7 separate regions of the Homo sapiens genome follow, and all the other regions are reported to be linked to region 6. Evidence: microRNA targets listed by miRTarBase, many of them from high-throughput screens and not tested one by one. Region 6 holds a microRNA gene; each other region holds the end of a gene's coding sequence.

The links. Region 6 holds the annotated microRNA hsa-miR-370-3p (GCCUGCUGGGGUGGAACCUGGU, at 2,751-2,772, opposite strand). A microRNA usually pairs through its seed, bases 2 to 8, with sites in the 3' UTR of a target mRNA and lowers its output. Matches are read on the target gene's strand: a 7mer-m8 pairs with bases 2 to 8, a 7mer-A1 pairs with bases 2 to 7 and ends in A, and an 8mer does both.
Region 1: the mRNA of CKAP4 is a reported target of hsa-miR-370-3p. The part of its 3' UTR that is shown has no 7-base or 8-base seed match.
Region 2: the mRNA of MRM2 is a reported target of hsa-miR-370-3p. Seed matches in the 3' UTR shown: 7mer-A1 at 3,512-3,518.
Region 3: the mRNA of GARRE1 is a reported target of hsa-miR-370-3p. Seed matches in the 3' UTR shown: 8mer at 783-790.
Region 4: the mRNA of MTG2 is a reported target of hsa-miR-370-3p. Seed matches in the 3' UTR shown: 7mer-A1 at 1,761-1,767 and 7mer-m8 at 1,510-1,516.
Region 5: miRTarBase lists FOXH1 as a target of hsa-miR-370-3p. Seed matches in the 3' UTR shown: 7mer-m8 at 1,399-1,405.
Region 7: miRTarBase lists ARID3B as a target of hsa-miR-370-3p. Seed matches in the 3' UTR shown: 7mer-m8 at 2,642-2,648 and 7mer-m8 at 2,677-2,683.

Annotation. Positions count from the first base shown.
Region 1 is chr12:106,235,698-106,239,771 of GRCh38, forward strand. It overlaps CKAP4 (cytoskeleton associated protein 4), which reads right to left. Exons shown (of 2, transcript NM_006825.4): 2 at 2,184-4,074. The coding sequence ends at 3,327. Among named protein-coding and RNA genes, the nearest start is that of CKAP4, 10 kb to the right of the region's middle.
Region 2 is chr7:2,231,497-2,235,496 of GRCh38, forward strand. It overlaps MRM2 (mitochondrial rRNA methyltransferase 2), which reads right to left. Exons shown (of 3, transcript NM_013393.3): 3 at 2,699-4,000. The coding sequence ends at 3,626. It overlaps MAD1L1 (mitotic arrest deficient 1 like 1), which reads right to left and starts at 1,449. Exons shown (of 19, transcript NM_001013836.2): 1 at 1,376-1,449. RefSeq lists silencers at 948-1,367, 1,345-1,723 and enhancers at 1,358-1,652, 1,438-1,567, 2,302-2,834.
Region 3 is chr19:34,352,162-34,356,235 of GRCh38, reverse strand. It overlaps GARRE1 (granule associated Rac and RHOG effector 1), which reads right to left. Exons shown (of 14, transcript NM_014686.5): 14 at 670-3,589. The coding sequence ends at 3,281. Among named protein-coding and RNA genes, the nearest start is that of GPI, 11 kb to the left of the region's middle.
Region 4 is chr20:62,200,349-62,204,422 of GRCh38, reverse strand. MTG2 (mitochondrial ribosome associated GTPase 2) reads right to left here. Exons shown (of 7, transcript NM_015666.4): 7 at 855-3,740. The coding sequence ends at 3,346. Among named protein-coding and RNA genes, the nearest start is that of HRH3, 18 kb to the left of the region's middle.
Region 5 is chr8:144,470,896-144,474,969 of GRCh38, reverse strand. It overlaps FOXH1 (forkhead box H1), which reads left to right. Exons shown (of 3, transcript NM_003923.3): 3 at 1-1,558. The coding sequence ends at 732. KIFC2 (kinesin family member C2) reads right to left here. Exons shown (of 18, transcript NM_001369769.2): 13 at 2,924-3,028; 14 at 2,711-2,832; 15 at 2,486-2,609; 16 at 2,264-2,393; 17 at 1,919-2,175; 18 at 768-1,838. The coding sequence ends at 1,581. Among named protein-coding and RNA genes, the nearest start is that of FOXH1, 2.9 kb to the left of the region's middle. RefSeq lists enhancers at 1-670, 671-1,566 and a silencer at 2,469-2,528.
Region 6 is chr14:100,909,884-100,913,957 of GRCh38, reverse strand. It overlaps MIR370 (microRNA 370), which reads right to left and starts at 2,819; the gene lies at 2,745-2,819. It overlaps MEG8 (maternally expressed 8, small nucleolar RNA host gene), which reads right to left. Exons shown (of 51, transcript NR_146000.1): 8 at 3,654-3,725; 9 at 437-526.
Region 7 is chr15:74,595,193-74,599,266 of GRCh38, forward strand. ARID3B (AT-rich interaction domain 3B) reads left to right here. Exons shown (of 9, transcript NM_006465.4): 9 at 419-2,939. The coding sequence ends at 582. It overlaps CLK3-AS1 (CLK3 antisense RNA 1), which reads right to left. Exons shown (of 9, transcript XR_007064715.1): 9 at 3,727-4,074. Among named protein-coding and RNA genes, the nearest start is that of CLK3-AS1, 19 kb to the right of the region's middle. RefSeq lists enhancers at 1,817-2,317, 2,933-3,821, 3,096-3,390.

The DNA.
Region 1 (4,074 bases), not on the chromosome of region 6:
CATCATCTCCATCTCCACCATCATCTCTATTATCAACACCATCACCATTCTAAGTGACTTGCCCAAGGCCACATGGTCAGTGGTGTAGTAGTCTCCTCACCAGGGTGCTGTCAGTCCTGCCTGAGAAGTTTCACTGCAGCCTCTTATCCTGGTGCTGGATCTGCAATTTAACCAACATGTTCAGTAATTTGTGTATATTGTTTGTTCAAAGGGCAAAACAACCTGTTTCCCGAAGCTTCCCATTACTCATGAAAGCATTCCAAGGGACTTCCCCCAGCCCTTCAAAAACCTGTTCTAACCACCTCTAGACCAACCATGGCACAATGGTCACTCCTTCCTCTTGGCCCAATACACCCAAGTATGGCACCTGTATTTCTAATACCTACCACTTTACATGACTGTCATTCCCACTGGGCTAGTCCTGTACATTTTAATTCACTGATACTTAGCAAAATGGCTGGCTATCAGCCCAATAAATGTTTATTGAATGAATGAACACTATATTGAATGAAGAAACAAGACTGAGCTGCATTATTTGGTGTAAGAACTCTAACTGCCCCACCATCAGAAATATGTGAATTCCTAATATATTCCTTTTATTTTCACCACTTGAATTTATATTTATCAGACACTTGTCAATATTTTCTTTTATAATATTAATGAGAATCTATTAAACCACTCCATAGTCAGAGATGAGCAACTGCAGAAATGACAGGAGAAACAGCAAGAACATACTCAATGCAACCAATTGGCCTGAAAAGGAAATGAATTTAATTTTTTCCATGCCTGCGACTTTATGCTGTTCCGCACCCTCCCCAAGTGGGTGAAAGTAGCCATTTAAAGCATACATGTCAATACTTAAGACTTTAAAATAAAAAGTAAAATGGTTTTGAAATAAAAATAGAAATTATTTACAGAGCCTGTCCTGATTTGCTAACTGCTTTGGAAAAAACTTCCAGCTCTGAGTTGTGAAGCTTTGAGGGACCCAGAGTGACTGACAGCAATTCAGAGATGAGGGGCCTTTCAGCCAGAAAGGGGGACATCAAGCCACAGGACCTCAGGTCCTAGCCACCCTCTACTCCCTAGGTGGGAAAGAAGAAATCTCTTGCAGCCTTGGGCTCTGGAACAGGACAGATATTCCACAGGCCAAATGGACCTGCACTGGTGTCAGTGGACGGTAGAGGATGCTGTCCCAGTTAGAGCAAGGATGAGGTCCAAAGCTTAGCCCTGCCACTTCGTAATGAATGACCTTGTATGAAGCTTCTCAGCCTGCTGTTCCTCTGTGAAATGGGAAATGATACTGCCTACCTCGGGGGACTGTAAGAAGGAATAACAGGTTATTATGCATGCTGAGCACAAGACCTGGCACACAGGTACTCAATAAACAGCATGTGGTTTTTATTGGGTGGAGGGTGGAAGGCAATCCAGAGAAGGAAACAAGCCCAGGTGTGCACTAGGGCTGAAGGTCACTCAGATGGTCTGAGACACTGGTTCTCAACCCTGACTGGACATTAAAATCAGAGAGGGAGCCTTTAAAATACCAGTGCTGGCCAGGCATGGCGGCTCACACCTGTAATCCCAGCACTTTGGGAGGTCGAGGCGGGCAGATCACGAGGTCAGGAGATTGAGACCATCCTGGCTAATACGGTGAAACCCTGTCTCTACTAAAAATACAAAAAATTAGCCGGGCGTGGTGGCAAGCGCCTGTAGTCCCAGCTACCCAGGAGGCTGAGGCAAGAGAATGGCCAGAACCCGGGAGGCGGAGCTTGCAGTGAGCCAAGATCCTGCTACTGCACTCCAGCCTGGGTGACAGAGCGAGACTCTGTCTCAAAAAAAAAAAAAAAAAAAACAGTGCCAGCCTCTTTATGCCTATTCAATCAGCATCTGTGCGGGCAGGGCCCAGGCATTTTTTAAAAGCTCCTAGGAAGATTCTAATAGGTAGTGAGGGTTGAGATCCTGTGCTTGAAGCTAACAGAGCTGGAGACAAGTAATCATTGAACACACTTGCTAACAGTCCATCAAAGGAGGTCCCCGGCCCAAGAGTGAGGCCATCTCGGTTTCAGAATTAAAAGAAAAAACAGCCTTAAAATAGTAAACTTACCTATTTGCTAATCGTTTATACCATGTGCTAATAAAACACATCATAATTACGAAATTCTCAGAATGTAACCACTCTGGAAAAGTCATAACAAAGCTCAAGTGTTTATTAAGAATTAAAAATACTGTAAATAAGCCATACAGTTCATTTCACAGTAAACTAAACAAAACTTTTTTTTTTTTTTTTTACTTTTCGGGTTTTTTTTTTTTTTTTTTTTTCAATTTTTTTTGGAAGGGCAAGACAGCCATTAAAGAACAATACAGCTCAGAGGGAAGGGAGATACAGCAAACAATTACACAAACGCAGTATGCACGCTCCTTGCCGACAGGGCTGCCCAGACGGCAAACCTCTTCATGGACATCATGTTAAAATAAAAGGACTTGGCCTGCATTCCCCAGGGAGACCCCCTATTCCACTGTAGACAGCTCTCCTCACGAATTTTTTGAAAGAACCCAAGGACTCCCCTTTCTGGTAGTCGAAACCTGTGCATTCCTTGGTGACCTCCGGAGAGAGAACATGGGCCGGCAGTGGGGACAGAGGGCACCGGGACTCTGCTGGGTGTAGTGCTTCACATTCAGAACCGCCTGGATGCTTTGCATAGTTACCTCTGATATCACAAGATGCGTCAGGAAGAGAAACGACACGCACACCATGAGGGAGGCAGCCCTCAAGCAGCGGATTCCTTTCAAAGAAAGACCCAGGGGCTTCTCCCCTCCTCATTCAGAGCTGACAGCTATGAGCTTTAACCGGTTCAAAGTGGAAGACAAGTGAGAGATATCTCATAAAAATTTCGGCCAGAACAAAAAAAAAAGTAAAATTAATTTTCCTTAAAGACAACTAGAAAGAAAAGGGTCCCCCCAACCCACCTTTTTTTTTTTTTTACTTGAAATCTGCCAGCCAGACAGGATTTCTGAGGTTAATCTGCTTCTGTTAATCCTCAATTTAAGCCTTTATCATTTTTCTCTGACTAGAGACATCCATGAAAAGCCACCTGTTATTCACAGGGGCTGCGCTTCAGGAAACCAACCAAATGCAGAAGCAGAGAACTTAAATATTGTAAATAAGTTAACTGGGCATGAAAATACAATGCCTTGGTGTTCAGGTGGTGACAACTGCTCTTTAAGAGGGGACAAGAAATTGGGGGGTAGGGGACACATGGGAAAAAACCACACATTTTTTGGTCATGAGAAATTGGACTTTAAATCCGCGCCCTGCACACGCAATTCATTTAGACCTTTTCGTGAATCTTCTCCACTTTCACAAACAACCTATCCAGATCATTCCTCAGGTCATCTAGTAAACCCTTGGCTGATTCCAGATTGTTCTCGTTGGTTTCTATTTTGACCGAGTATGCAACCAAACTGTCCACAGCAGTCCTGAGCATTTTCAAGTCCGCCTCCACTTGGCTGACTGAGGCTTTCAGGTTGTCTAGAGAAGAAAGTCTGTCCAGGAAGTCCTGAGGAGGCAGACGGGCGGCCTGGGCTTGGTCCTGACTGAGCAGCGTGTGCACCTGCTCCTGCACCTTCTGGAGTGATTCCACGGTGCTGGGGAGCTCGCCCACACTCCTCTTCAGCTCCTCCACGTCACCGTAGAGCACCAGCTGGGTCTCGCCCAGGCTCCTCACCGTGCTGGCCAGGCCATCCTGGTCTGCCTCTGAGGACCCGAGGCCTTCCAGGCGCCCCTGCAGGGCGGCCAGGCGCTGCTCGTGCTCCTGGCTCTTGGACAGGAGGGACTCCAGGCTCTCGGTCTGGCGCGCAGAAGCCACCTGCATGGAGAGCACCCCATCCTCCACGTGCTGGAGCCTGGAGTCCAGTCCCTGACTCTTTTGCTGGAGTGCCTCAAAGGCTTCCGAGTGTCTGAAGCCTCCGTCCTCCTTCGGCCCGTGGGAATCGGACTTCAGCTGGCGGAGCTCTTCCTCCAGTCTCCGGATCTCCTCCGGGAGGCGGGAGACGGACTCCTCAGACCTGAGAAGCTTC
Region 2 (4,000 bases), not on the chromosome of region 6:
CTCCGGAGGCTGGGACAGGAGATTTTCTTGAACCCAGGAGATGGAGGTTGCAGTGAACTGAGATCGCGCCACTGCATTCCAGCCTGGGTGCCAGAGCAAGACTCCGTTTCAAAAAATAATAATAATTAATTAAAAAAAAAATCTGGCCTCTGGGAATCAGAAACGAGGCATGCAACAGTGACAGTAAAGATGATGATCATCACAGCTGTGCTCATTTTCATTGTTTATTTCTAGTGACATTAATAAGTACTACTACTATTTTCAACTAGGTATCAGAAAGAAAGGTATCTGACATTTCCGAGCACCGAGACTTCTTGAACTTCAGTTTCCTCATCTGTAAACTCATGACAGTGAAATCTACTTGCAAAGTTGTGGGGAACGGGGCCAATATCCCTCAAGTCTTCCACCGCTAGATGATGGGAATACGGCTGCAGGTTGACCAGCACTATATTTGTAAGCTCAGTCTCAACAGGGTGGTGAATTAGGTCTTTTTACACAGATTCTAGAGATGATGAAACCGAAGCTTCAAAAAGTTACAGAACGGAGATTGGAACTTGGGTCTGTCTGGCTTTGGAAGGCTGAAGACAAACCGCAGTAAAGAACTTTGCACCCCCAACACCGGCGCTTACTATGGGCTCATGGCAGGCCGGCCCACCAGCCACAACTAGGGAACAGCCAAGCGCGTTTAAAAGCCAAAGGTAGAACTTCTGCAGCTGCACAGTTTCTGAGTTTCCATTTAACAAGAACCTTGGCCTGGTGCAAGCAGAGGCCTGAGCTCCCCAGGCTGCCAGCCCCGCAGAGGCAGGCCCGCCTGGAAGGAGGCTCCACAGCCCAATTCCTCCATTGCCCAAACGAGATCAGGGTGGCCCTTGCCATCCCCGAGGGGAAACCGGGCCCACACGCCCCCTTCCTGAGAGCGGACCGGCGCGAGCCACCAGGATGCCAAGAGCCCCTGCAGCCCCGACTTCTCCACCAGGCGCCAGCTCAGGCCCCTTCCTCGGCGCGCCGGCACCCTAGCCCGGGGACCCACACGGTAGGCAGCGGGACCCCGGGGCTGGGACCACGAGCACGCGCCCCTCGGCCGCCCGCCCTGGCACAAGGGACGGCTGCGGAGACCCAGGCGAGGGGCCCGCTGTCCCCAGCACAGCCCAAAGGGGGAGTGGGGACAGGGGAGTGGGGAGAGGAGGGGAGAGCACAGAGAGGAGAGCGCGCCCATGGGAGACGGGGCGGGCGCGGGGTCCTGAGGCACGGGGTCTGGGTCGTTGTGCCCCACCCTGGCGAGCACACCCGGTCCGGGCCCTCGGCCCCTCCCTTGCCATTCCCGGGACCCCCGGGACCCCGGGACCCCGCCGCCCGCGCGAGCCGGGCCGCTTACCTCAGCCGCTCGCAGCCAGCTTGCCGCCGCCGCTCGGATCTCCCTCCGCTCCGCCGGCGCCCATTTATCGCGACACTTGCGCCTGCGCTCTCGCGAGACCTGCGTGGCAATCGGGCCGTAAAGAACCGAGTCTGCGCACCGGCTGATCCTGGGGACTCCGCGTCCGCACCCGGAGCCGCCACCCCTGGGAGACTCCGCACGGAAAGGACTCGGAACCGAAGGCTGAGCCAAGGCGCAGTCGGGGGCCCCCCGGCTTTGCGCAGGACGCGCTTCCACTAAGGCTTTCGCCTCGCGCCGTAATGTGTGGAATAGCCGCGCCCACGGCAGCCTCCTCGGACAAACTTGCACCGTTGACTCTTCCCAAAATTTTGCTACTCAGTATCAGCTTGAATCAATCCGTTATTTTGCTTTTTTCTGGGCCCACTAGAAATGCAATTTATGCTACTAGGCTACCTTCCCAGTGCTCTGCAAGCCAGGGCACAGCATCCAATGGGGTGAGGTCAGGCCCCACCATTATTATGGTAACCTTTGTCTATCCTTCAAATTGGAGCCTTCCTGAGAAGAGTGTGCCTTACTCGTTTCCATATTCTCTTCCTCTCCTCCTCCCGTCTCTGCCCAGCCCCTGGCTTCCCTCTAAGAAGATGCTGTTCCTAAGGGTCTGCAATGAATTTTCCTTCTTTCAGAGAAAGACTTCCAAGTTGTGTGCCCCGGGAATGAAATGGAATAAGAGAACGAGGTGGAGTAGGGCAAGAGTCCCTGGACTTAACAACCTGACTGCAACCAGAAATAAAATGAAAAGTCAAAACATCTGGCGGCCGGGCGCGGTGGCTCACGCCTGTAATCCCAGCACTTTGGGAGGCCGAGGCAGGCGGATCACGAGGTCAGGAGATCGAGACCATCCTGGCTAACACGGTGAAACCCCGTCTCTACTGAAAATACAAAAAAAAAAAAAAAAAATAGCCGGGCGTGGTGATGGGCGCCTGTAGTCCCAGCTACTCGGGAGGCTGAGGCCGAATGGCGTGAACCCGGGAAGTGGAGCTTACAGTGAGCCAAGATCACTTCACTGCACTCCAGCCTGGGTGACAGAGTGAGATTCTGTTTCTCAAAGAAAAAAAAAAATCAAAACATCTGACCCGCAGTTTCCTTCGGGGAGCTGGACAGAGCCCCAGATTCCTGATGGAGATTCCTGGGTTTCCAGACTTCCCCCACTGGTCCTTGGAATTTAATCATAGTCAACAAACTCTTCTTGAGGGATGAGTACACCTCCAGGAAATGGCTTTGAGGAAGCCAGTTTAAAAAAAACAAAACTTCAAAGCATGAAAGTACCTTAAAATAATGCAATCTCTATTATTTTATTAAATATAAAGCTGCGTCAAGTTCCTAGATGAGTAAAAGAAAATAAACACACCACATCACTGCTTGCTTTGGCAATTACATTTATGTTCTTGGGAGCCCAGACACTGATATAAATTTCCAGCAAAAACCAAAGCAGACCCACTGCCTGGATAAATTCAGACCATACGTCTTCCCTAATTGTTCCGGGAACTTTTGCTGCTTGAAGAATGCGTGAATTGCTATATTGTTCACCAGAAAGACAGAAGTTAATCCCCAGATGGAAATTTCAGATTTTTCTTTTGGTTTGCTTTTTGGTTTTTCATTTTTGTAGACATGGGGGGTGTTGCTATGTTGCCCAGGTTGGTCTTGAACTCCTGACTTCAAGCAATCCCCCAGCCTCAGCCTTCTAAAGCCCTGGGTTTACAGGCATGAGTGGCCTCACCCAGCCCCCAGATTTTCTACTTTAAACAGCCACACTAAGAACTGGAAATCTGTGCGTGGTGCTCTCAGAGCAGGGGTGGAAAGCCTGTTTGTGTGTGACAGTTTAACAGTCTATAAGATGAAGTCCCGTCAAGGCACACATGGGCACACCCATCCCTGCCTCGGCGGATTCCTTCTGATCCTTCCCACAGTCTGTTTTTCTCCATCCTTCCATCCTCACCTCTTTCTCTTGATAACTTTCTCTTCCCAAATCACAATATAGCGGACTTTTTCATTTTCCATGGCCCCTGAACTTAGTTTTGTCATCTCTTTTTGGTTAAAAAGAGAGAGAGAGAAAGAGAGAGAGAGACTCCCCACTTGTCCTGCTCCATCTCCAAAATCAGCTCAAATCTCCCAGGAACTCTTCAGGAGCTCAGGCTACGTTTCTAGCTTAAAAGGAGCTAATGACCATTATGAAAATGGCACAAGAAATCCTCACTGCTTCACAGTGCCCTTCCTTCCGTGGTACTGTGTGGCCAAGAAGTACACTTCTGATGACTCTTTCCTGCTGGCTTCAGGTTTGATGATCCTTACATTCTGGAATTCCTCTGTCAGTCTCCTCTGTAACCGACGGCTTTGACTTCCAGCCCAGGTTTTACAAAGGAATGTCCCCCCAGGTTGCAGGATGTCTGGGGTCACGCTGAGAAGGGTCAGGCACAGGCTGATGAGCCTGTCATGATCGAGGTCCCGGAACCCTGTGGCATTGGGCGCCATGTCGCTCAGAATCACATCTGCTCTCCTGCCAGGAAGCACCTCGAGGATTCTCTGTGAGGTTCTCGGGTCAGTCACGTCAGCAGGGCACAGAAAAGT
Region 3 (4,074 bases), not on the chromosome of region 6:
GCGATTCTTCTGCCTAAGCCTCCTGAGTAGCTGGGATTACAGGCACACGCCACCATGCCCGACTAATTTTTGTATTCTTAGTAGAGATGGGGTTTCACCATGTTGGCCAGGATGGTCTCGATCTCCCGGCCTTGTGGTCCACCTGCCTCAGCCACCTACAGTTCTGGGATTACAGGTGTGAGCCACTGCGGCCGGCAGAGACAGGTCCTTCTTATCCCTGTAAGGCACAGTATCTCTGCCATAGATTGGGTCCCTGGTTTGGGAAGAGGGTAAAACAAGCCCTCATTCTTGGGTCTCGTCATTGGACAAGCTGGCTGGGCAAGTCACAGCATCCACATTTGGTGGAACATGGGTGTTGGTAGACCCCAACCCAGAGAGCTTGCACCCTTGCAGAGGACGTCTCCTTCACTACTGCACTGGCTCCCCCTGCACAGGGGCCTAAACCAGCTTGGGCCTTAGGGAAGCCAATAGGGGAGGCGTAGCTGCTTGTTCTCCCTCCTGCCCATCCACTTCAGCTCACCGTAATATCCCAAGTGGTCTTCCCCTTGCTAGAATCAGAGGACAGGCTGACCTAAAAACCAACTCAGTATGCAGCTTTTCAAAGCAATGAGTCAGGCAGGGCTTTTGACATAATGTCCTCTGCAGTTCATTTTAAACAAGGATACAAAGTATTATTAAATGTATATTTTTAATAAAGCCAATAGTTATTTTACTTATAGGAGCTTTAAAAGATACAAAATGTAGAGTTCCAGTTTGGAAGCATTGTAACTATACACACAATGTCCTGCTGATGCCCTAGCAAGGCACCCACGCCCAACCATGCAAAGGACACACACGTTCACACATGCACACACATGCGCTTTGGCGAGACCCCTCTGCCAAGCGCAGCACCTGGAATTACCAGTGTTCAGAGCAAGGCGGTGCCGGGAACACAGCACCTACATGGAGACCACACAAACGGCTTCACACAGTCTCACAGCCCATGGAGATGCAATTAGAAAATGTCTTCCTTAATAGAGAAAAACAAACTGGAAAGTGACAATTAGTGACGTCACCTGTGCTGGAGCATCAAGGATTGACCTCTGTCCAAGGTGAGGCCTTTGGAGAGGCACTATTAAAACATGAGTACTTCAGTATAATGGAACTCGAAATACAGGGTACTGTGGACACATTACTGAAGGAAATAGAAAACTATCTTACAAGTAGAACAGCCATAGACAACTTTAACAGAGATTAGTGTGCACACCGTGACAGCTAACACAGACAAGAGCCACGCAGGGTTGGTGCAAAGCACGTGCCTGAAAATGTCTATATACAAAACAGTTCTTTGTAAACATGGTGAGGTGAATGCTCAGAACCACGGCAAAAGATCATAAATACAGGCAGCAATGCATCCCCACACAGCACAAAAGACAACACCTGAGGCCTGGGAAGAGCCTGACAACACAGTACTAAAAACTCAGGTGGCTGGGCTCAGACACCCTACGGGTCCTCTCAAATTAGTGTGTGTGTTTACATACATACATACATACATATATATATATTCTTTTTTTTTTTTCTTGTTGAGACGGAATCTCACTCTGTCACCCAGGCTGGAGTGCAGTGGCACAATCTCAGCTCACTGTAACCTCCGCCTCCCGGGTTCAAGCGATTCTTCTGCTTCAGCCTCCCGAGTAGCTGGGACTACAGGCGCACGCCACCACACCCGGCTAATTTTTGTATTTTTAGTAGAGATGGGGTTTCACCATATTGGCCAGGCTGGTCTCGAACTCCTGACCTTAGGTGATCCACCTGCCTCGGCCTCCCAAAGTGCTGGGATTACAGGCGTGAGCCACCACGCCCAGCCTCTTTTTGGTATTTTTATATATAAATTTACTTATATCTGTAGAAAAACGAGAACATAAATGTGTTATTACAATCTTTGCTGGAAAAGCTTATATGGAGTTAGAAAGAATAAACCATTTATTAGTAGTTAACATATATTAAAATGGTTTAATGATTTAAGAAAATATAAAAAAAATATTAATACTGTCAAACTTTCATACCAGAAAATATTATGGATTTTTCTCAGACTTTTTCAAAGATGAAATATGAAAAATTTAAATAAGTTTTATATAAAGAACTTTCTGTAACCTCAATTAATATACAGTGGGATATGTCTATTCTATATAGATATATTTATTATTATTTCTCAATTTAAGCACCATTCAATTCTTCTGGATCCATTCTGGCTGGAAAATATCCCTAAATCCACAGGATGTTATCTATTTAATGGCACATGTTAACTGAAAATGAGGTGGATTTTTTTTTTAAGAAAAGACCTTAAATTAATTTCTATCTACATCTTAATTGGTTTGTCTTCTGAGCCAGCTCACAATGTCAATGCAATTTCTAGTGCAGGTGTCTCTGAGTGCCCCTTGACCACACCCCGAGGATTGTGGCAGTGTCCTGGCCATGTGTGGAAGGATCGAAGGGCAGCAGGTGCAGCCTTGCTCTGCACATGGACAGCAGCTGGCTGGTCCACCGCCACGCACCTTCAGCAGTGTACCTCCGGCACAAGTTCCACCATTCTGCTTCAATAAAGCTGGGAAAGGCCGCAGTCCCAGGGTGCTGCTGGGTGGCGAGGAACTGTCCACCCCCAGAAACCCCAGGTGACTGCTTCCAATCACAAATATTCTATATTTTGCCCATTTTGTATAAGCTTAAATATAGATAGTGTTAAACAAACCTCCAGCCAGTATATCTGTTATCTTAAAATATTCAATGCATTTTAGGCAGGAGATGTTTTAACTAAAAACCTACATGAAAAAAAAAGCTATAAAATACAGTGATTGGTGTGGTCATCACTCAAGGTGTGGAGGAGGGAGGAGAGGGTTTCCAAAAAATGGTCAGTTATGCCCTCAGCTTTCAGGCCTGATGTCTTCCCAACACACAGCAGGACTAAAAACCCAAGAGCTGTGTTTCTTCAAGTGTGGCTGTGGCGCCTGCATCAGAGTCACCTGTGGCGCTTACTAGGCATGCAGGTTCCCTAGCAAGCCCCTGAAGGCCAGACGCCTGTGTCTCCAGCTGGCTCTCCAGGGCTCTGATGCCATCGTTTCAGAAGCCAGGTTTAAAGGCTTGGAGCTGCCAACCACCCTTGTCCCCAAGGAACCCTCCCTGGGATGGGGCGCACTGGTCCTCTGAGGGGCTGGTGTCAGCTAAGTGGCCCTGGGGTGGGGACACTCATCCCCACAGCTCTGGGCGGGCAGGCAGGCAGGCAGGCAGGCTGGCTGGCCTGGGGTCAGTACTGGGGCAGATAGGCTGGCCTGCGCTCACCCTTCCCAGGGAAGGCCTTGAAGCCCTTGGGTGCTGCCTTGTGTGCTGGTGGGGGTGGGGGCTGGGGTGGGGTCTGCACATAGGAGAAGGCAGCGGCACTGCAGTCGTTGGTTGCGGCCCACACTGGGGACTGCAGCATCTGCATGGTGTCGTTCCACTGGCTGCCAGGGCTGGTGACTGCATAGAGTGGTGCGCTGGGGCTGGGCAGCGTGCTGGGAAGCGGGGAAGGGTGCTGCCAGGGTGCTTTGGGTGGCCACGTTTTGGTTTTGTTATCCTGAGAAACAAAAGAGAGTTCTTAGTGGCATTTCGGGCAATGTATCATCATTTCCCACCTCCCCAGATGCCTGGCCCTTATTCCCTCCTAGGAAGCCGGGTGAGAGCCCCACTCACTCCCACACCCCTGTCCAACAGAACTTCTTGCAATGATAGCCATGTTCTGTGCCTATACGGTCTAGTATGGTAGCCACTCGCCACATGTGACTAGTGCAAACTGAGGAAAGGAACTTTTTTTTTTTTTTTTTGAGATGCAGTCTGTCTCTCGCCCAGGCTGGAGTGCAGTGGTACGATCTCGGCTCACTGCAACCTCTGCCTCCGGGGTTCAAGCGATTCTCCTGTCTCAGCCTTCTGAGTAGCTCGGATTACAAGCGCATGCCACCATGCCTGGCTAATTTTTGTATTTTTAGTAGAGATGGGATTTCACCGTGTTAGCCAGGATAGTCTCGATCTCCTGACCTCGTTCGTGATCCACCCGCCTTGGCC
Region 4 (4,074 bases), not on the chromosome of region 6:
CTCTCTCTCTCTCTCTCTCTCTCTCTCTCTCACACACACACACACACACACACACACACACACACACACACACACACACACACACTGAGTTTCAGGCCAGGCGCAGTGGCTCATGCCGGTAATCCCGGCACTTTGGGAGGCCAAAGTGGGCAGATCACCTGAGGTCAGGGGTTCGAGACCAGCCTGGCCAACATGGTGAAACCTTGTCTCTACTAAAAATACAAAAATCAGCCAGGCGTGGTGGTGCAGGCTGTAATCCCAGCTACTTGGGAGGCTAAGGCAGGAGAATCGCTTGAACCCAGGAGGCAGAGGTTGCAGTGAGCCGAGATCGCACCACTGCACTCTAGCCTGGGCGAAAGAGTGAGACTCTGTCTTAAAAAAATAAAAACAAAAGTAAAAATAGTTTAAAACTAGGAGCAGCCTGAAGGCTCCTCATGCCAGCGCCATCCTCCGTGCACCTGCCAGCGCTTACTGACGCCGTCTCTGGGTCAGGTGTTCTGAGGCTGCTGGGGATACACAGAGACCCTGTGTCCAAGGCAGCCCACACATGCTGACTGTGGGGGGGTTGGCCTGCACCCGCGGTCCCTTCCGTAACTAAAGACTGCGGTGTCGGCCGCCTCAGGCATGGCTACTAAAGACCCGCACAGACGGCCACATAGTGTACACTCCAATTACAGGATCTGTCTGGAAGGCAGGTCCCTGGGGACAGAAGGTAGACGGGTGGGTGCCCGGGGGAGGGGGAAGGCGGGTTCACGCTAACGGGCACAGGGTCTGTTTTCGGGGTGATGAAAACGTTCTGGAATTTGCAGTTTGACAGTTGCACAACCTTCTGAACATACAAAAAAACCACTGAATTATATAAAGTGGTGAATTTTATGGTATGTGAATCATATATCCCATTTGAAAAGCAGACTGACAAAAATTTGTTTCTAGGCAGGAAACAGGAAACTGGGGAAGCCAAGTGTAGCTTTACCCTACTCAGGGAGAACAGTGTTGGAGAGAAAGCTGTCAGCTTTTAGAACGCGATGGCAAAAGCTGTGTGTGTGGCAGGGAGAAGTCTTGGGGCTTTTTGCAGCAAGGAAAGTTCTGGGCAACCTTCGTGGCAGTGACTCCCCCTCTGGAGCCTCAGCTTCAGCAAAGGACGAGGGCATGTCCCCAGAGCAGCCACAGTCAGGCCCAGATCAAGGTTTCAACCCACGGGGAGGCTGGGCTGGGGGCTCCGTGCAGGGGTCGAGCCACAAGGCATCTTGAGCCTCCCCTGCAAGAGCATCAAGATGAAAGCCAGGGATAATTAACGCCGTCAGGCCTGGGGCGACTCCACAAAATCCTTTGTGGCGGCCTGAAAGAAAAAGCAAATAGATGCAAAACCCATCTCTGGTTTCTAGGATAGAAGGACCTTTGAAATTATAAGACATTAAAATAAAGCTTCGGGTAAAAGGACTGTCATGTTCTAGCTGCAGATTTGATGTGAGATCAAAACGGAATTGCTCCTGAAAGCCCAGGCACCGGCCTGCTGTGCAAAGCGCGCCCCACCCCAGCGTGCAGAGACGCGGCCCCGGACCCTTGCGGCTCATCTCACCTGAGGCTGCCGTCTCTCCTCCAAGGGCTGGGGGTCCCCTTCTGATCATCCTTCTCTGCTTCTTTGTCCCCTCCACTTTTTTTTTTTTTTTGAGATGGAGTCTTGCTCTGTCGCTCAGGCTGGAGTGCAGTGGTGTGATCTCGGCTCACTGCAAGCTCCGCCTCCCAGGTTCACGCCATTCTCCTGCTTCAGCCTCCCGAGTAGCTGGGACTACAGGTGACCGCCACCACGCCTGGCTAATTTTTTTGTATTTTTAGTAGAGACGGGGTTTCACTGTGTTAGCCAGGATGGTCTCAATCTCCTGACCTTGTGATCCACCAGCCTCGGCCTCCCAAAGTGCTGGGACTACAGGCATGAGCCACCGTGCCCAGAATGTTCTGTTTTTGTTTGTTTGTTTGTTTGTTTTTTGAGACAGGGTCTCGCTCTGTCACTCAGGCTGGAGTGCAGTGGTGCAATCACGGCTCACTGCAGCCTTGACCTCCCAGGCTCACATGATCCTCCCACGACAGCCTCTGGAGTGTCCCCTCCACTTTCTTTCTTAGGGGCCCCTCAGGGACATGTCAGAGGCCTGAGACTACTTGGGGGATGTCTATGGGCCAGGCAGGCTGCCAGCAGCTGAGCTGTCCTTGCCCTGGGGCTCCTCTGCAGTCAGGGAGACACCAGGCATGGGCCTGGCTTGGATGCATCAGTACTTGACTGCAAAGACTTAAACCACAGACAGGAAAGGCGCTGCTGCAGTCTCGACGGTCAAATGCAGGGCCCCCTCAGCTGCCATCCCACTGAGGGGCGAAGGCCCATCATCTCCCTTCGGCTCGGTAACTGCCTGGCGTAGCACAAGGGTTCTCTTTAAATCCCCAGCAAATGGAGCTGAGTGGAAATTCCGCCCCATATTACCAGGCACACGTCTCCTTCCACTCCTCACTATACCCTGCCCATGCCACGGCCGCCTTCTGAGAATAACGCTGACAGTTCCATGGCCCACAGCCCCTCTAGTTAACTTGCTGTGCACACGGCAGCCCAGCCAGAAACACGCAGCCAGGTCGGATATTGGGTGCATTCAGTCGTGAAGCCTGAGGCTTCCTGGCTCCCACTGAGCACAGAGAAGTGTTCTGAAGGACAGGAAGCAGCTGGCCTCACTGCTCTTCTCAGACGGCTGATGGAGAAAAGCTCACAGCTGCCTGCGCCGCTCTGCCTGGACTTGCATCCTCGGCCCCACCCCTTGCGCAGCAGTGAGGCCCCCCGAGACACTGGTGCCTGGGCTTGCGGTACCGCAGGGCTGCTGGACAACGGGCCAGACGCAGCCCCAGTGTGGATCCAGAGGTCTCTCTCCGTAGCAAGCCATGGAAGCACGACGGGCACTGTGCTGAGAACCCTGGTCTGCACTTCTGACCTGGGGCTCTGGCTGTGCGGTTCTGCTGAGCTCATCCGAGAGTCCACGCGTGCATGGCGGAGACCTGAGTCAGCGGCAGGGCCACCCCGTTATGGGCACCCCAACCCCTTATTAGGGGTGTTAATCAGCACAAATGAGCAACTGGCTCATCAGTCGGTGCAGGCTGACAGGTGCAGGAAATACGGAGGGCAGGCGGGGTAGGGGGCACGGAATGCTTCCCAACATGAGGGCATCTCAGGCCAGCAGGCGGGGCCCAGAGACCCAGAAGCACCACAACTCCCCCGTGTCCACAAGGCACTTTATGCATTCAAAACCACCGAATTCACACCCAGGTTTGCTCAGACAGAGGCCCAGAGGCGACCCCGCTCTGGCGTGGCTACCACCTGAGCGGCTGGCGGCCCTGGCCCAGCTCGGCCTCCGCGTAGGCGTCATACAGCACCTTCAGGTGCAACAGCAGCTGCTCCAGGTTCTCGCCGGTCAACGCCGACAGCACGATGACCTCCTGTCCCAAGTGATCCCGGAGCTGGGACAGATTGGCTTGGGCTTCAGGGAGGTCAATCTTGTTTGCGACGATTGCGTGGGGCCTCGCAGACAGGCCCTTTTCATACATCTCCAGTTCATATTTTAAATCGTCAACTTGAGTCCACGGCTCAGGCTGAGAAAGATCCACCACGAACAAGAGAAAGCGGCAGCGCTCGATGTGCCTGAGGAAGGCGGACCCCAGACCCCTGTTCTGGTGGGCGCCTCGTATGATGCCGGGGATGTCGGCCACTGCAGGGAAGACAGGGGCACACGAGGTGACCACTTGGCACACCCAGCACCCAAGAGCGCCTTCCACCTCGAGCCTGGGAGAGAAGGCCTGGAGCCCACTGCGAAGGCGGATTTCCTGAGTTCTAACACTTTCCTTTCAAGGAACGCCTTGAACTGAAGCCATTTGATTTAGCACCTGGGTGATTCACTGGGCCAACTGACACCTGAGGAATTCAATGCTTGGAGATGTTTGGGAGACCAGCGTGGCGATGGATCTATCTAGTAGAGTACATTTCATACCTTCTCTTTCTGCTTCTAATAGGATTCAAAAAAGAGGAAAATGGCTGCCTGTACT
Region 5 (4,074 bases), not on the chromosome of region 6:
CAGAACACCGCCCTGTGCCGGCGCTGGCAGAACGGAGGTGCGCGTGGAGCCTTCGCCAAGGACCTGGGCCCCTACGTGCTGCACGGCCGGCCATACCGGCCGCCCAGTCCCCCGCCACCACCCAGTGAGGGCTTCAGCATCAAGTCCCTGCTAGGAGGGTCCGGGGAGGGGGCACCCTGGCCGGGGCTAGCTCCACAGAGCAGCCCAGTTCCTGCAGGCACAGGGAACAGTGGGGAGGAGGCGGTGCCCACCCCACCCCTTCCCTCTTCTGAGAGGCCTCTGTGGCCCCTCTGCCCCCTTCCTGGCCCCACGAGAGTGGAGGGGGAGACTGTGCAGGGGGGAGCCATCGGGCCCTCAACCCTCTCCCCAGAGCCTAGGGCCTGGCCTCTCCACTTACTGCAGGGCACCGCAGTTCCTGGGGGACGGTCCAGCGGGGGACACAGGGCCTCCCTCTGGGGGCAGCTGCCCACCTCCTACTTGCCTATCTACACTCCCAATGTGGTAATGCCCTTGGCACCACCACCCACCTCCTGTCCCCAGTGTCCGTCAACCAGCCCTGCCTACTGGGGGGTGGCCCCTGAAACCCGAGGGCCCCCAGGGCTGCTCTGCGATCTAGACGCCCTCTTCCAAGGGGTGCCACCCAACAAAAGCATCTACGACGTTTGGGTCAGCCACCCTCGGGACCTGGCGGCCCCTGGCCCAGGCTGGCTGCTCTCCTGGTGCAGCCTGTGAGGCTCTTAAGACAGGGGCCACTCCTCCCTCCCGCTCCCACCCCCACCTTGTTGACAGGGAGCCAAGGCGAGGCGGCTGTCTGCGACCACAGCAGCCTCGAAACACCAGGCAGCAGCCTTGCTGGGAGTCCACGGTGTTTATTGGGCCACCCCACGCATGGCCGTGGCCCAGCTGGGCACAACCCTCACCCTGGTCTGTCATGCCTGTTTTTCCTACACTCAGCGGCAAAGCTGCAGGAGCAGGGCTGAGCCTGGAATAGCCCTTCCTAGTCCCCTCTTCTCAGCCCACTACCCATCCATCAGTCACCAGCCGTCACCTCCCCTCCCGTGCTCCAGGCTGGGGGAGGGAGAGCCCAGTGGTGGATCCAGCCTGAAGTCCTGCCCTCTCTCATCTGTCTGGAAAGGAGGTAGCACCTTTTTCGGGAAACGGGTTAGGGAGTAAAGACTGCACCCTACATGGTCCTGGTGGTGGGGGGGATAACAGTAAAGGAATTTGCAACGTTTTAATGCCATGCCTGATTTTTGGGTCAGGAGTGGTGACTTGGGTAACCACTTGGCGGGGGGGCCTGGGATTCCCTGCTGTGTGCCGTGATAACAGCAAATGGTGATAAGGAGAAAGCCAAGACCTGTGGCCTGATGCAGGGCTGGGGGCGGGGGGTGATCACTTCAGCAGGCACAACACACTTCACTGGCTGCGGAGGTGGAGGGGTGACTCTGGGAGCTCAGGGGCAATGGATCCAAAGAGGCTAGGGAGCTTGTGCCCTGGGAGACGGGGTACAGGGACTTTACTACCGCCTCTGCCAGCAGAGACCTGGCCTGAGACCCCATGGGCAGGGCCGCGACCCAGGACTAGAGGGGCAGGCCCTCTGCGGGCGCGAGAGCCGAGCCCGAGCCGTTGTCGGGACTGGGGCATGGAGGACTGCCAGGGGACGGCGTAGGGGTGCAGGGGGTCCCGGTGAGCGGAGTGTCGGTGCTGAGGGAAGAAGGCGTCCCGGAGGAGCGCGGGACCCTGCGGCGCCGGGCTGGCCCCAGCTCCACTTGACCCACTCGGTCGGCGAACTTGAGGGAGCAGACTGTCTCCCCGAGATCCTCCGGCCGCGTGGAGATCTGCGGGCAAGAGGCGCGGGTGGGCGGGCCCGGGTGGGCGGCGACCGGCACGCACACACCTGCCCCGCCCCGGCGCCCACCTGCAGCAGCAGCACCGCGGTGGTGCCTGGGCCCAGCGCCGGCTGCAGCAGTCGCGTGAGCTGCGAGTCGCGGAAGGGCACGTGCGGCCGGTGGGCCCGCAGTGCGGCCATCACGCCTCCTAGCGCCAGCAGCGAGCGGTTTATGGTCTGGGCCTCCCGCAGGCGCCGGGCGCCGTCTGGGTCTCCCCGCGGCGGGCCGGCCGCCCCTGCCTTCCGTGCGCGTTCGGATCCCGCCAGGTCCACCAGGTGCAGCGTGCCTAGAGGGGCGAGCGAGCCCGACATGGGGGAAGGCCGGGCCTCGGGTGCTCTGGAGACTCCGCAGGGCTCAGGCACCGGCCGTGGTACCTGCGGTGCCTGGAGCGCGCGGTGGAGACGCCGCGCGCAGCGTCAGCGTGACCAGGGCATGCGAGCGGGAGCTGCGCTGGTTCATGGCGGTGGCGGCGGTGGCCCGGTTGCTCCTCCCCAGTTTCAGCATCTGGAAGGCGGGGCGAAGGGCTGGTCAGGTGCAGGGTCCCCGCCCCCAAGTGGAAGCACGGGGCGGGGTCTCGGAGAGCGGTGCAGCCCTACCTGGTGCAATGTCTCCAGGTTGGGCACGTCCCAGTGGGTGAGGCCAGCCACCTGGATCCCGCCCTGGCCTTCTGGGCCCTGCCTCACGGCCAGGCGCTCGGGAGGCCCTGGAGCAAGGAGGTCCCTGGTGAGAAAGGGGAAGGTCTTGGTTCCAGAATTCTCTGGAAATCCGGAAGGGCCCTGGGCCAGGGGTGGGGAGAAGGCCTCCCTGGTGGAGTAGCCCACCTGACAGCCTCATTGTAGATCTCCACCATGCTGAGTGTCACCCGGTGCTGCCGGCCGGCCCCCATCTCCCGGAACAGCGACTGCAGCGCCCTAGGAACTATGCCGGGGTCCTCAGGAGGGCCCTGAGGATGGGGTGGGGTGCACACCGGGCTCACATCCAAGTCATGCAGGGCCCCTGGGGCCTCTCCCACTGGGGCGTGAGCTCTGTCCCACCTCCATGCTGTAGGTCTTCCCGGTGCCTGTCTGGCCATAGGTGAAGATGCAGACGCTGTAGCCTCGGAGGCAGGACAGCACCGCAGGTTCCAGCTCTCTGAAGACCTGCGGGAGGCGGGAGAATGTGTTTTGAGTCCTCCCCACGTTGCCTGTTTATGCCCTATTTGGTGGGGTGGGGAGTGCCACGAAGGCAGGTGTGAGCAGAGCCTAGTCTCCTGGGAGGATGGCTCTAAGGGACCATGGGGGAGGGTGTGTCCTACAGAGACCCTCTGTCTCCCTAGAGAAGGTGGTGCTTGCAAGAATTTGCCAGGCAAAGAAGGGAAAAGACACAATGAGAAGAGGAACAGCCTATGCAGAGGCTCTGGAGTCCTGAAGACCACGTAGGAGACCTGGGGACAGCAGTTAAGAGCGCAGGTGTGGTGTCCTTAATGTGGAAGCCAACGTGAAAAAAAGAAAAATAAATCCCAGCATTTTGAGAGGCCAAGGAGGGTGGATTGGTTGAGCTCCGGAGTTTGAGACCAGCCTAGGCAATACGGTGAAATCCCGTCTGTACAAAAACTACAAAAAAATTAGCCAGGCATGGTGTTGCACATCTGTGGTCCCAGCTACTCGGGAGGCTGAGGTGGAAGGATCTCTTGAGCCCAGGAAGCAGAGGTTGTAGTGACCTGAGATTGCACCACTGCACTCCAGCCTGATGACAAAGTGTGACTGTCCAAAAAAAAAAAAATACATATACATATATATGTAGTAAAAAATTTTAAAAATGTTTAAAAGAGCCCAGATGGGCTGGGCGAGGTGGCTCACGCCTGTAAACCCAGCACTTTGGGAGGCCAAGGCAGGCAGATCACAAGGTCAGGAGTTCAAGACCAGCCTGGCAAACGCGGTGAAACCCCTGTCTCTACTAAAAATACAAAAATTAGCCGAGCATGGTGGCACGCACCTGTAATCCCAGCTACTTCGGAGGCTGAAGCAGGAGAATTGCTTGAACCCAGGAGGCGGAGGTTGCAGTGAGCCGAGATCACACCACTGCACTACAGCCTGGGCAACAGAGTGGGATTCCATCTCAAAAATAAAGAAAAAAAAAAGAGCCCAGATGTTGGGGCGTGACTGCACGGTTCAAACCTGGGTATGATTGGAGCTTACTCATTGGC
Region 6 (4,074 bases):
GTCCATGCTTGACTCTCTTTGATCTTGTTTATACATGCATCCATTTATGTTTAATTACCCCATAAACATATATAAACCCACCCCAGCCTGCAAATATGAAAAATAAACATAACACATATTACGTATGTGATATATATATAGGATACATGTATAAACATAACACATGATACATGTGATATATATGTAGTATACGTGTGTGTGTGTGTGTGTGTTCCTTTTTTTCTTTGCTCATTTGCTACAGAGAACAGCCCAGTAATATTGTTTTTTAATTTGGTAACAGTTACGCTATATGAAATTAATCACCCTTGGTTCATGACATTCTCATCATGCCCGTCATCTTTGACCTTATTTATGTATTGATTCATGTTTAATAATGTAATAAACAACCATCAACCAACCACCCAACTTCAAAACAACAACACTAAACATTACTCACATTGGTTGGTTCATGGCTCATTTTCCACAGAGGTCACAATCAAGATCTTCATCGACAAAGTGTCATTAATTTCACTCTGGAGCCTCCATTCTGTGGAACACAAGGCTGATATTAAAAAGGATGAAAAAACCTAGATTTTTTTAATGGCCATCAGGTGAGAAGCACAGTATTAATCATAATCTTTGGTTCATGACAGTCTCACCACTGGCCCAAGCATAGCTCTCCGCAATTATTCATTTATTAATTTGTATTATTACAAATGAGTGTGTATTAATTCACCACTCTAATCAAAAACAAGAATCATGACTCTCACAAACATATGTCCCTGTGCATCTTACCCAAGAAGGAACCAACCCAGATATTCTTCCTAACGGATGCAGATGACGCAGACTTGGAGTGACAATCATATTTGATTCCTACTCACCCTTTTCAATGTTTTCATTTATTTTTTTAAATACAACAAACACAGATGAACCCACCACTGACCCAGACCAAAAATATTGATTAGTACATCCAAATACTTCTTATCCACTGAGGTCAAAGTCTTGTTTTATTTTATATAGTCCACAATTGTACACAAATGGATAAATCTTAATCTTTAGGTCATAAAACACTGTCTTTGTGGTCCATTCTTGACATTCTTTCATTTCGTCACTTTTGTACTCATCTAATTCATTTTTGACTATGCAGCCACTACACTTGAAGTCACCATTTAGCCCAAGACCAGTGACTATTCTGTATACCTGTTGATACACTTCCTACCCTCAGCCTCAACAGCCTAGAACCTGGCTTTTGTTTTGGAATAACCTCACAGAAGCAGAGACTAGAAAGGTAGTTACTAGGGGTCAGGAGTGAGAGGAATCTGGAGATCTTAGTGAGAGGATGCAAACTTAGGAGTAAGATGCAGTTAGGAGTAAGTTCTGGTAACCCAATGCAGAGTACGGTGACTATAGTTAACAATAATGTATTTCATGCTTGAAATTTGCTAAAAGAGTAGACCTTAAGTATTCTCACTGCACACATGGAAAAACGGAACTACATGAGGTGATGGGTATGTTAATTCGCTTGATTATGGTAATCATTTCACAATATATATGTATATCAAAATGTCACACTGTACAATTTAAATACAATACAAATACATACAATACTGATTTATCAATTATATATTTATAAAGCTGGGGAGTGAGGAACACATTGCCATCATTGGTACATGCTTGGCTGTCTCTGGTTTTATTTACGCATTCATTCATTTTTAACTGTTCAATCAACACCCACAAAGCCGGCTTTTATTTGTCTGCACTCACCTTCTCTGGGAGAGAAACCCCAGTGTGCCCATTCTATGGAACATAAAGCCGGTTAAAAAAAGAAAATAGCCTACGAGGCCTTTTTTGTTTGTTAATATCAGGTTACCAGACCTGGATTAGTCATAATCCTTTGCCCAGAACACATTCTCAGAATTGTTCCATTCGAGGCCTTTATTACCTTATTTCTTTATTCCTTGATTATTTTTAATAACAAAATTAATAGCCACGAACCACTCTGATTTCTTTTTTTAATGCCCCTCAGTTGTGAAGAATTAATCACCATCCCTGGTTTACAACCCACTCCCGTCCTTGCTGCTGGCATGTCTCTCTCTTCTTGTATTGATTGTTAAAACCACCCACGAGAATTACCACTGGTGGTCCCCACCTCCATCCCTCCCCCTCTCATGCCCCTGCCTCCCTCTACCTTAAACAATCACTCCCAAATCTCCTGGATACAATCCCTTTCCAGATATATATATATATAAATTTACAACATATATGTAATATATGTATTCTTAAATATTTTCCATGGGTCAGTGGCTTGCAGGAGTTTTCAGTGAAGGCTAAAGAGAAGGGTCGAGGGAGAGTGTGAAATACACAAGCTTGAGTTCAGAGTACACCCACTGCTGGGGGGATTGGTAAAAGCCCTCAAACCCAGATCACTGAGCCATCTGCACCTGCGCACACACCACGAGCCAGTGGGCCCAGTGGTTGCAGCACATATGCTCACACCTCAGTACCCACCTCCCAAATCCAGCCTCAATGCCAGACGAGCTGGGTGACATCAGCAAAGCAAACTAACGTCTCTGTGCCTGTTTCCCCATCAGCAAGATAGTTGCAGTGGGGGGTCCCCAAGCAAAGTTATGTTATTATTTTCAAGCCAATGGCAACCAGGTTAAAAAAAAATACAAAAAAACCCTCCATCCCACCTCTGAGCCCCCTCCCTCACCCAAATCTTGGCTCCCTCTGCAGCAGCGCCCGAGCTCTGGTGTTAGACAGACAGACAGACCAGGTTCCACCCCAGCAGGCACTCGTGAGCTGTGTAACTGCAGAGACGTGACCTGGCTTCTCTGTCTTGTGCCCCGACTTGTACGGTTTGTAGAATGAGGAATGCAGCGCCCTCGTGGGTCCAACCGGAGGGTGACCTGAACTATCGCCCATCCCTCAAGTAGCCCGCCTTGCACACCTGCGCACACCCCACCCTTTCCCCGTCCCATGACGCCCAGCCCACTGCTCAAACAGTCCCCAGTTTGATCAAAGAAATGAATTAGTTCAATGCTCAGATCAAGCCAAGGGTTTGGGACTCGGGCAGGGAATTGTTCGGGCATGTTCTTTTTTGGACATGGCATCAGAGCTTAAACAAATACACTGAAAAACAGAAATCCAACTAAGGGATGTGCTTTGGAAAATGAAAATTCATTTTGTGAAGTGGGACTGCCCTTGGGGAAGTCTATGCAGTGAGATTCTTGATGTTCAACTTGATTCCAAGAAACCAAAAGAGGCTTCACTATGGGCCTTACCAAAGATACACAGCCAGTTTCCTTCTTACCCCTCCCCCCAGCTTGTCCTGGGTGTGTACCACCTGCCACAACTGGCCTCAGAGCAACTCAGGGACCTGAAAATAATTCTATATATTATATAGAGTTATGGTGTAGGTGTATAACGTCATTTACACATCAATCTGTCCATTGGGGGACTGTCATGAGGGAGTCGTGGGAAGACCACCAGTGTGGGGACCTGCCCCTGCCTTCTTCATACTGTGAGGCCTTGGAGAAGGCCTGTCCCCTCCCTGAGCCTCAGGTGGCGATCGTCCCACCAGCCTTTCCTCCCTCCTAAGTGGTGTGAAAATGAAAAGCATAACATTTTAAGTGCAAGTTCCCTCCAAGCAGCAGGGATCATTAATATTGTACCTCCTGTACCCAGCACGTAGTGTTCACAGCATGCCTCAGCATACATTATCTCGTTTGATTCTCACAACAGTCCTGTGAATTAGACATAATAATCATAATTAGCCAATATTTATTGAATGCATACTCTGTACCAAGCACCACACTGCCTACTTTGCATACATTGACACTCCTCTGGGGTGGATACAATTCAATAGTATCTCATAAATTTTTCCCCAAAATTTCTGAGCATGCACTTTGTATTGTTGCTGGGTCTAAGTGCCAGGGATACAGTAGTGAGCAAAACGGACAGATCCCGGTTCCATGAGAATTAACATCCCTGTGGGTGGAGATAGGAACAGAAAATCATCAGAAAAGGTAAGCCTAATGCATGGGATAAAAGATGGTGGTAAGAACTAGGGAGGAAAATAAAGCAGGAAGGGGG
Region 7 (4,074 bases), not on the chromosome of region 6:
CCAGCTAATTTTAAAAAAAATTTTTATAGAGACAAGGCTCTTGCTGTATTGCCCAGTCTGGTCTCAAACTCCTGGCCTTGAGCTATTCTCCTGCCTCACCCTCCCAAAGTGCTGGGATTATAGTTGTGAGCCACCACACCTGGCCTTGGTGTTCCTCTTTGTGTACCCTGGGTACACCTTGTCTCAGAGCATTTATGACATTTTAGCAAAATTACTCTGTCGACCTATCTGTCCCCCTCCCCAGCCCATCAGCACTTCAAGGCAGGACAGCATTTGGATCTTCTCCCATCACCCCCTAGCACAGTGTCTACAGCGGAGTCAGGCACAGGCTAGGCCAGCGGTGAATACTTACTGAAAGGAGCTGGCCCTCCCCTTCGCTCTTCCTCTGCCCACACTTGCTTCTCTTCCACCCACCAAGGTGTGCTGTTTGCCCAGAAGCCTGTGGTCCACCTCATCACGGGGTCTGCTCCCCAGAGCCTCGGCAGCAGCGCCAGCAGCAGCAGCAGCTCTCACTGTTCACCAAGTCCTACCTCATCCCGGGGCACCCCCAGCGCAGAGCCCTCCACCAGCTGGTCCCTCTGATGGGCAGGACCCAGCTTCCCACTTGCCACTCTCCTGTCGAGAGTGAAGGAAGTTGATGCACAGAATTTACCTCATCTCACAGAGCCCACGTCGACGAGCACCATTTGGCCAGACATTGAGAGTTTGGACGTGTCCGTCTGTCCAGGCTCCATTCAGGTCCTGCTGTACTCTGGGGGCAGGGAGAGGCTAGAGGGGCAGGACAGACAGCGTTGTCCAATCAGGGATTGTCCTGGAGAACTGGGTGGGGGTCTGTGGGTGTCCAGCTTCCTCCAGGGTTCCCCAGCCACCTCCCAGCTCAGGGCACAGTGTATCGACAATCTGTCAGCCGACGCAGGGCTGGAGGCCCTCCATTTCCCTCCCCTTTTAATTTATTTCCCTGACCCTGCCTTCTGCCATGACCCCAGGGCCACTAGTCTCTTCCCCTGTTTTTAAGTCCCATGTGGGGCTGCCAGGAGCCAAGAGCATGCCTTCATGCCCTTCTCTGCAGAGCATGGGATGGGGCCCTTCCAGCCCACTTTGCCTACTGTTAGGTTCCTGGGGTACGGGTCCCTCAAACACAAGTCTTGAATCAGTCCTCAGGGCCCCAGATCCCCCTTCTAATAGTCTGAAGGAAGAGGCTGTGAGGGCAGTTCAGGGCCAGGGCCCACAGGGCATCTGCTGATGGGAAGGCAGAGCCTCGGGGCTGCCCAGCCCTGGCACCTGCTTCACACGGACCATTCTCTGACCGCCCCCGCCAAACCTCATGCTCCCCACTTGCCCTTATTGGCCTGCTTTCCCAAAAACAGCCCACTCATCCTTTCCCCAGCCCTCTTCAGCCCTCCCCAGTCCTCCCCAGCCTTCTTCAGCCTTCTTCAGCTCAGCCCTCTTCTATTTCTTATGGGGCCATCTTGGCCTCACCATCCCCACACGTGCCGATGTCAGGTTCATTGAAATACCTCAGATTTGTAATTGTTGATGTTTGAGTCTTCAGGAAGTATTTGCATCTCTGAAATCTTTTTTATATGTGTTTTGCTGACTTTTGTTTTTTTTTTATTTTAAAATTTTTATCGTAGCACCAAAGAAATGAAAACAGATCACCCCCAAAGCCAAGCAAGTGATTGGGTAACCCGGCCCCTCTGGCCCTTCCCTCAAGCCCAGTGAGGAGGTGGGTGGAGGCATGCAGGGGAGACGACTCAGGGATCGCGGGGGCGGGGAGGTGGAGTGGAGAGGCCCGCTCTCACACCGGGTCGGGCCCTGAAACTGTACCAGTTCTGAAGACCGTTTTCTGCCACACCCCCACCCCCAGCTGACCAGGGAGGCAGAGGACACCTCCCCATCACTCAGCATTCCCAGCTCAGGGCACAGGCAGGCTGGGGTCCTCGCTGGCCTTGCCAGAGGTTGAGCCGCCCCAGGGTATGAGGAGATGAATAACTCCACAGCTCCTCCTGGACCCTGCGCGGGAGCAGGCAGCTCCTGTGCTGTAAAGAAAATTGATTCGCTTGCGGCTCACCTCAGTCGAGGAAGCCCTGGAATGTTCAGCAGAACACCACCACTGTGACATGGGGCTGTGGCAGTGGGAGACACCGCGCGTGGCGTGGGTGTGTGTGGCAGCGTGGCTCGCATTCAGTCCTGTGTAGGAGAGGAAAGGGAATCAAAAGCTTGAGCACAAACAGATACCTCAGCCCGGTAAGCTGCAGCTCTGCTCAACTGCGTCTTCTCTCAGCCCTCCACACACACTCACCCCCACTCCCACACACATACACACACACACACACATACCCCATCTCCCGAGGGCTGACCTCCTCTGGCCTCAGCCTGCAGGGTGTGGGCAGAGAAGGGCATCTGGGACGTGGTGCCAGTGAGGAGCCCAGTTGGCTGGCACTGGGCCCATTTGAAGGTGTCTCAGACATTTGGCCAGTATGTCTTTCTCAGGGGTTTGGTCACAAAGGATGGACTCTTCCCACCCAGAGGATGCAGGGAAAGCACACTGTGTCTTTCCGGTCATTGGATCCTCTCCCTTTCCCCAGGCAGCTCGCCTGGCCACACCGTTGGAGTGAACCCTCACTGCCCTCAAGGACAACAGCAGGGTGTCACCCAGAGCCCGATGAGGGGTGCCAGCAGGTGCCCCCACGAGTGGGGCCTTGGCCCAAGCAGAGCTTCCCCTGAAGGTGCCATCAGCCAGGGCAGCTCTGTCCCCTCCTGCTCTCCATCTTATATGTATTCTAACCAGGAAAAATGTGATAGCACATGGGTAGCCTAGGCAGTGAGTAAATACCTCAGATGTCCTCCTGCAGCAAGTGTCTATATGTTGTGGTTATTTTCTATCTTACATGTTCTCGAATGTTTATATTTCAATAAACCTCTACCTCTTCACACAAGCAGGTCTCTCTCAGTTGCTTTGAGTGGCCTTTCCACTGGACAGTACTGGGGAGAGGTGAGCTCCTTCAGAGTGAAAGGGGACTGAGTGAACTACTCCTGACCCCTTGATTTCTCCTGAACCTTCTCCCCTTCACCCACGCCTTCTTCAAAGGGAAAGCTCACTGAGCTCACTCTCAGCTAACCTTGTGTGTTAGCAGGTTTCTCTGGCGTTACCCCAGAAGCTCCTAGAAAAGCCTGCCCGGCAGCAAGCCACAGGCCCCGCCACGCCATTGGCCAGGATTGAGTCACGTGCCCTCCCCAGAGCCAATGGGAGCGAGGGGGCAGGGTGACCGGGAATGACCTTAGACTGCCCGCCCTGCGCGGAGGGAGATCCACTACAGGCTGCGCCTCTGCCCCTGCGAGGGGCACCCCTGGGTCTCTGGGAAACGGAATGGAGGGTCTTATGGAAGAGAAGGTTTGGAACCACCGCTGGAGGGAAGGGGAGAAGAAAGCAAGCAGGAGTGGCGCGAACAGGAAGGGACTAGGGATAGAAGCCGGGCTTGGACACAGTGAGGCACGAACCCCGACAGACACAGAGACAGACAAGGGGTGCTGATCTCCTCACTGGGCGGGGTGGGCAGGAAAAGGAACAGGAGCTGGAGCTAGAGCGAGGGCTGCGAGCGGCGAGTGGATACCCGGCCTCAGGGAGGAGCTTCCAGGAGGGCAGGGGTCTCCTTTGGAGCAGCACCGGGGACGTTTGCTCGGCAAGGGCTTTTTGTGCGAAGTAACCGAAGCCAGTCAGGCTAATGGCGGCAGAGAGAAGGATTTATTCTTGCACCCAGGGTGTGCGGAGGAGCCCAAGGGCATTTGGACCTGTGTTGACGTCCGGAAGGGCCCGGAACCCAGGAAGCTCTGCCCGCAGAGGGTATTCCTCTCCCTCTGAAGACCACCTCAAAGCTCAACTTTATCACCTCCACGCATGAGACCGCCGGCGGCTGAACTAAAATCTCACCATCCCAATTCCAGTTTCTGGGAATTGTCACCTCCATTCGCTCTCATTAGAAATCCAGCTTTTTTCACGAGGTGAATAACAGGGCAGTTGACAGTTCCCAAGTTTTCTGTGTCCAATCTTCAGCCCTGGAGGGACTCTTCTGC